2 separate regions of the Homo sapiens genome follow, and region 2 is linked to region 1. Evidence: fine-mapped expression QTL. A gene starts in region 1. The other region holds a variant in brackets. All regions are shown on one strand. Distances are from middle to middle. Region 1 holds the start of SMPD3 (sphingomyelin phosphodiesterase 3). Region 2 overlaps SMPD3 (sphingomyelin phosphodiesterase 3).

What was found. PIP is the estimated chance that this variant, and not a neighbour inherited with it, causes the effect.
Region 2: its variant is the best candidate, but not a certain one, in a credible set for the expression of SMPD3 in whole blood (INTERVAL, PIP 0.88).

What each region holds. Positions count from the first base shown.
Region 1 is chr16:68,447,046-68,449,943 of GRCh38, forward strand. SMPD3 (sphingomyelin phosphodiesterase 3) reads right to left here and starts at 1,463. Exons shown (of 9, transcript NM_018667.4): 1 at 1,308-1,463. LOC124903705 (a long non-coding RNA gene) reads left to right here and starts at 1,795. Exons shown (of 2, transcript XR_007065097.1): 1 at 1,795-2,021; 2 at 2,120-2,898. RefSeq lists a silencer at 1,161-1,680 and an enhancer at 1,781-1,830.
Region 2 is chr16:68,361,835-68,364,732 of GRCh38, forward strand. SMPD3 (sphingomyelin phosphodiesterase 3) reads right to left here. Exons shown (of 9, transcript NM_018667.4): 6 at 1,943-2,032; 7 at 1,662-1,725. Among named protein-coding and RNA genes, the nearest start is that of PRMT7, 52 kb to the left of the region's middle. RefSeq lists enhancers at 734-1,546, 1,547-2,358. The variant CG/C (reference allele first, on the strand shown) is at 1,346.

The sequences.
Region 1 (2,898 bases):
ACGTTTCCGTGGAAGCTGCCCGCGCCGCGCCCGAAGCCCCCCCTCCGCGGCCGCGCCCCCCGCCCAGCCCGCGGCGCAGGCCTGCCAGTGCGGCGACCGCCGCTTTGTCCTCTCGAGGATGCCTGGGCCGAGCGCGAAAGCCCCATGCCTTGGAACAGCCACCGCGCGTCCTGGAAGCAGGTCCCCGAGCCTCGGTTTGGGGTGCGCCCTGCATCGGAGCGGAGCAGCCCCCAAAGATTCGCGGGCACGAGGTTGGGGGTAGCGTCTACCTGGAGCTCTTGAGTGCTTGAGGGGAGACCCGCCCCGTCCCGCTCTGTACATGCCCATCTGGGATTGGCCCCCAGCTGCGGTGCCAGAGGCTCGGTCCCCGGGGCGTGGTGGGCTAGGGCGGGTCGTCTCGACTTAGAGCCCCAGGCCTGGATCCAGGTAGGGAGGGCCTGGGAGATAAGGCCCAGGTGGGGAGAGGTGGGGAGGGGTCCCTCCTGTCCTCGTACATCCCCCTACACTACCTCTCACACCCAGGCCACCCAACCCTCGGCGCGGGCCCGAGCGCGGGGGATTCCGAGTGTCAGTGCTTTCCTCCACCCGCGACTCCGAGAAGGATGGGGAGGGGTCTCCCAGCGTTTCCCTGCCACATTCCAATTCCACCCTTCACCAGTAACCTAGGAGGGTCCAAGTGGGAGGGGTAAGAGTCCTCTGTCTCTTCCACATCCTCGATCCTCCTCTTTACAAAACCCTAGGGCCAAGGGAGGAGGGGGGAATAGGGAGGGGGGCGAGTGTGGAGGAAGGGGCCTGGGCAAGGGTCTTCCCTGCATCCCAAGCAGCCCTTCCTGAATACCCCTGGGAGGGTCTGGGCTAGGGGAGCGGTCCGCGATCTCATCCATCACCACCAGACTCCTTTGTAACCTCGAGCAGCCGAAGTGTTGCGGGGAGGGGTCCCCCTGCCTCGAGTCCCTTCATCCCACAACACCTCATCCTCCCGTCCTGAGTAATCCGAGCAGCCCCGTCGCCAGGCACAGCGGGAGGGAGGGTCCAAGCCTCCTCGCTCTCCCAGGAGAGATGGGGGGTGGGGGTGACCCCCAGCCCTCGCCCCTCATACCCAAGAGCCTTCTCCATGATAAAACGAAAACTAACCCAAGCTGCTCCGACCTCCGGCGCCCGGCCACGGGAGGCCCCTAGTCAGTCGGCGGCTGTCCGGGACCCGCGGTCCTGAGAGCAACGAGAACACGTCCCGTCAACTCCCCAGCCCCTCACGCCTCGGTTCGCCCGCTCCCCAAGAAAACAAAAGCGAATTCAGCAGCACTGACCTCTGACGGCGGGCGGGAGGGCGGTCAGCGCCCGGCAGCGCACCCCGCTCCTCCCGGCTCCTCACAGCCCGGGCTCCCGGCCGCAGATCTGGCGGCGGCCGCAGCGGCGGCGGCTCTCGCGGCTCTCGGGTCCGGAGCCTCCCTCAGACTCAGCACCTGGAGCGGCGAACAGCTCCGCGCTTCATTCCTCTGACCCCGCCTCCCTCGCGCCGCCGGAGCCAATGGTGACCCGGACCCCGCCCAGGAGTCTGCCCATTGGGGGCGTCCTCCCCTCTCCCTCCGGCCCCGCCCGCAGGTTCCTGGGTCTCTCCTTCAAGACCACATCCCCCAGAGACCGGCGGAGTTTCGCACAGCCTTCTGGGACTTATAGTTCTTTAAGGACGCGGAGTGGGCTCACGCCGCGGGTAGGCAAACAGAGCGGGACTGCATTTCCCAGAGTGCACTGAAGACACGGAGGCGCGGAGCAGGGCGGGAGGACCGTTTCCATAGCAAAGACGACCAGCCGAGGATGGCTGGCGGAGGCGTGGGGCAGGCCGCAGGACCCTCGAAGGATCGTGTGAGACCCCGGGCAGCCTCTTGGGAGGCCATTTCGAGGAGAAAACCTTGATTTCTGCCTCAGGACCCTGGGCCTCAGTTTTCCTATCTGAGAAGAAGGGCGAAGAGCTGTGCCCCCGACCACACCCGTCGGTGATGGGGCAAACCGAGGGCAAGCAGGTTTGGTTCCTGCCCAGCAAAGGTGAGGGAGGACGGAGGAGACTCTCCCACCGCATTCAGAACTTTATTCCTTTATTTTTGTCTCAATCTTGTCATAGAGGAGCGCTTCACTTTTGGTCATCCCTTGGGCCACCAGGGCCTTCCCGTCTCCGTCTTCCCATCGCAGGTCCTGGCCTCCTTCACACCACTCCAGGATACCGCAGCATCTCCCCCAGCGCAGCAGACGGAGGGCGCTTCACATGCCCCCGGACCTAAGCCCACTCTCCCCTTCAAGATCTGGACTCCACTTTTTTGCAACACTCTTAACTTCTTTGGAAGCTGGGAAGCCTCCTACTCCCTTGGGCCTCTCCACCCTGCCCTCAGCTAACTCGTCGGCAAGCCCCAGCCTAGACATTGCCTGTTTTGTGAAGACATCTAGATGCTGGGCTGTCTGTTGAGTGCCCCACCCTGTGTTTGAGCAGCACCCTCTACTTCCCCTGTTCTACTTGCATGTTTATGTGCTCGTCTTCCTCATTATAAGATCCACAGGGGAGGGGCCATGTCTATATTATTCATACTTACAGTCCAGTGTCTAGTATCTGGCACGTAGTAGGCACTCACTAGCTATTGAGATATAAATATAGATATTTGTTGAATTGAAAATGAATTGGGCCGGGCGTGGTGGCTCACGCCTGTAATCCCAGAACTTTGGGAGGCCGAGGCAGGTGGATCACTAGGTCAGGAGTTCGAGACAAGTCTGACCAAAATGGTGAAACCCAGTCTCTACTAAAAATACAAAAATTAGCTGGGCGTGGTGGCACGTGCCTGTAATCCCAGCTATTCAGGAGGCTGAGGCGGGAGAATCGCTTGAACCCCGGGAGGTGGAGGTTGCAGTGAG
Region 2 (2,898 bases), 85 kb before region 1:
ATGGTCTCCTCCCAGTGTGGGAGCGGGTGGGTGGGACCAAAGCGCTGGGTTTAAGATCTCTCCCCTGCGGGTCCAAAAAGGGCCTCAGCTGGGGGTAGGCCGAGTTGCCTGTGGGTTCCTGGCTGAATCTGGGCTCCGGAGCCCGTCGAAGTGTTCTGTCCGCCCCAGCCTGGCCAGCACTCACTTTCCCTTTCTGAACTCGGACAGAACTGATCCCACCCGTTCCCCAGAATGGGCTTCTGCCCTGAGCCAACAGGGGCCTGTTTTGAGGAGCTTGGTCTTTGCCATGAGTCTCGGGGACCCTTGTGACTGTTCCCAGGTTGACAGGAGCTGAGGGAGCCAGGAGAGCACCTCTGAGGAGTCTCAAATGGGGCTGTCCCTACGTGGCTGTGTGACTCTGCTTATGTTACCAAGCCTCCAAGCCTCTGTTTCCTCCTCTGAAACAAGAATGGTTGCTGTGGGCCCCAAGACGCTTCAGGGAACAGGCTGTCATCCCGCTTCTGAGTGAGGAAACCCATGATGGTGCTAGGGGATCCACAGGGAGGGCAGGGCGCTGGAGCAGGGGGATGTGACATCTGGAATCCCTTTCTGGCACTGTTGCCCTGAGACAAGCAGTATGCCCGTCTGCTTCCTGCCAGCCTGTCCCCTGGGGCCTCAGCACCACTGGGCCAGAGGCTTAGGACCCCCTCCTGGGAGCCCCCATTGCAGAGGGCAGGCTGGGGCCAGGGCCTGGGATGGCAAGTGCAGTGGTGAGAGACCCTGCAAAGGCCGCCAGGTCTGTGAGTGCCTGGACGGATGCAAAAGGGGCACCCGGCGAGGCAGGGCCTGCAAACATGGGCTTCCACAAGGTTTTCATCAGCCTTAAGATAAATACACTAATGACATTCAGGACATTGTTACAGCTCAGAAATGGAATCCATCACTGTCCTTTGCCCTTGATAATTAATTCCAGCATCAATGATCTGAGAGCTACTGGTAGTCATTTTTAAATCATCATCTCATAAAAAGAATTTTCTCAGCATAGGATGATGTTTCAAATTTAGTCTATAATCTAATTAATTGGCTCAAATTAGCTGCAAGGAACCATCGCTGTGACTGCAGTCTCGGGCTGTGAATTATAAATTGGTTCTGCTGTTGGCCTCTCAGATGTGTTCTTTATGGACATCTTACTGGGCTCAAGAATGAATTTTGGCTGGGATGGAACTGTCTCTACTTTGAAAATGGTCGGCTGTGTTATTGCAGCTGGTGTCTGTATTTGCCTGATTGGTGCTGCAAGCTGCCAGGCTGCCTTCAGCAGGCGCCGTACCCAGCAGCTCTTTCATGGGGGTCGACCTGTGGCCTGGCC[CG/C]GGGGAAATTCCAGGCCCTTTCCTGTACCCAGCAGGCAGGGGCTCGGGGCAGGGCTAGCTCCTGAAAACAGGTTTGGGAAATACCCCTAGAGATTTAGCAAGGCCAGTACCCCTGGGCGTGAGGGCGTGAGGTCTACCTGCCTGGCCCAGCTCCCAGCTCTCAAAAGCTCTCAAAGGTGAGATGAGGGACAGGTTTCTGCCAAATAAAAGCCCTCATGAGCCCGAGCTGAGCTCTCCCATGTGGGTCCTGCCCAGTCCCTGTCTCCACCTTAGTCAGGGTGTGCCTCGTCCCTGGCCTGGGAGCGCAGTGCTTACTTCTGCAGGTTGTCGGGGGTGCACACATCCTCATCGTACAGGCCGTTCGTGTCCAGCAGAGTACCTGGGGGGGACGAGGGGGTGACAGTGGTCGCTGCAGGCAGGGCCCAGGCAGCCTCTAGGGGGTGGCCTCTGTGGGTGGACACGGGCTTCTGCTAGCCAGGGGCAGCTGAATGGGGCCCTTCCCCAGCAGTGGGGTCTTGTGGGGTAGGTCCTGGTGATCTTTGAGGGAAGTCTGTGGGGAGCCCAGCTCCCATCCTCCTCCCCCAGCCCCAGCTCACCGATGGCCCACGGCTTCTCCTCACCAGGCCCCAGGCGGCAGGGGTCCCTGTAGTGGGTGAACAGGGAGTGTTGCTGCTCCAGCTTGTCGTCTGTGCGGGGAGGGAGGAAACGCTGAGGCACCAGGGGGCTTTGCTGTCCCACACGGCCTGTGCCCCTGCTTCCCATCAGTTACTCCCCATGTGCTGCCAGGCCCCCATCCCTTAGGCCACTGCCCCTGGGTGGGATCTCAGTCCCATTCAGGTGCCCCGTGCTTCATTTGTCGCTGCTTTTCTGTGTCCTTGAGAACACCTCCCCCAGCACACGCCCTGATCTTCAGCATTCCCTCTGAGGACAGTGACAGTGACCACGGTCCTCGGACAGAGGAAGGAAGGTCCCCACAAGGTCCATGTGGTCATCGGATCCACAGATCAGTTATTTACAGCAAGTGTTTGCTGTTTCACTGATGACGAGCTTGTAGTCTTTCACCCTAATGGTTTAAGGTGCAATTCCCAGGGTTCAGATCCCAGTGCAATCACTGCCTGGCTATGTGACCTTGGGCTGGTTCTCCAGCCTCTCTGAGTCTCAGCTTCCTCCACCACACCACGTGGAGACATGCAATGCTTCCCTCTCAGGGTTGTTAAGACACTTAAGTGAAACAGCGATAGAATGGCAGCTGGCTCGAAGCAAGAGCGCGGCGCCCCGTTGATGGGTGTTACTAGTGGACTCGTCCTTTGTCTGCTTCAGAGGCCCCCAGCCTTCCTTGTCAGAGGTTCGTTTTTAGGGCATCTCTGTCTCCAGCTTTCTAGGCAGAGCGTGGGCTCTTCCTGTTCTAGGATTTCTAGGGGGCAGAGAAATCAGTCTTGCTAAATACCCCGCCCACATGCTCTCGAGGAGCAGGAATTCTTTGAGCTGCCTAACGAAGTCTGTCTAGCTGTGACTGAGCCCACAGCCTCCCCAGAGCTGGAGACCTGAGTGG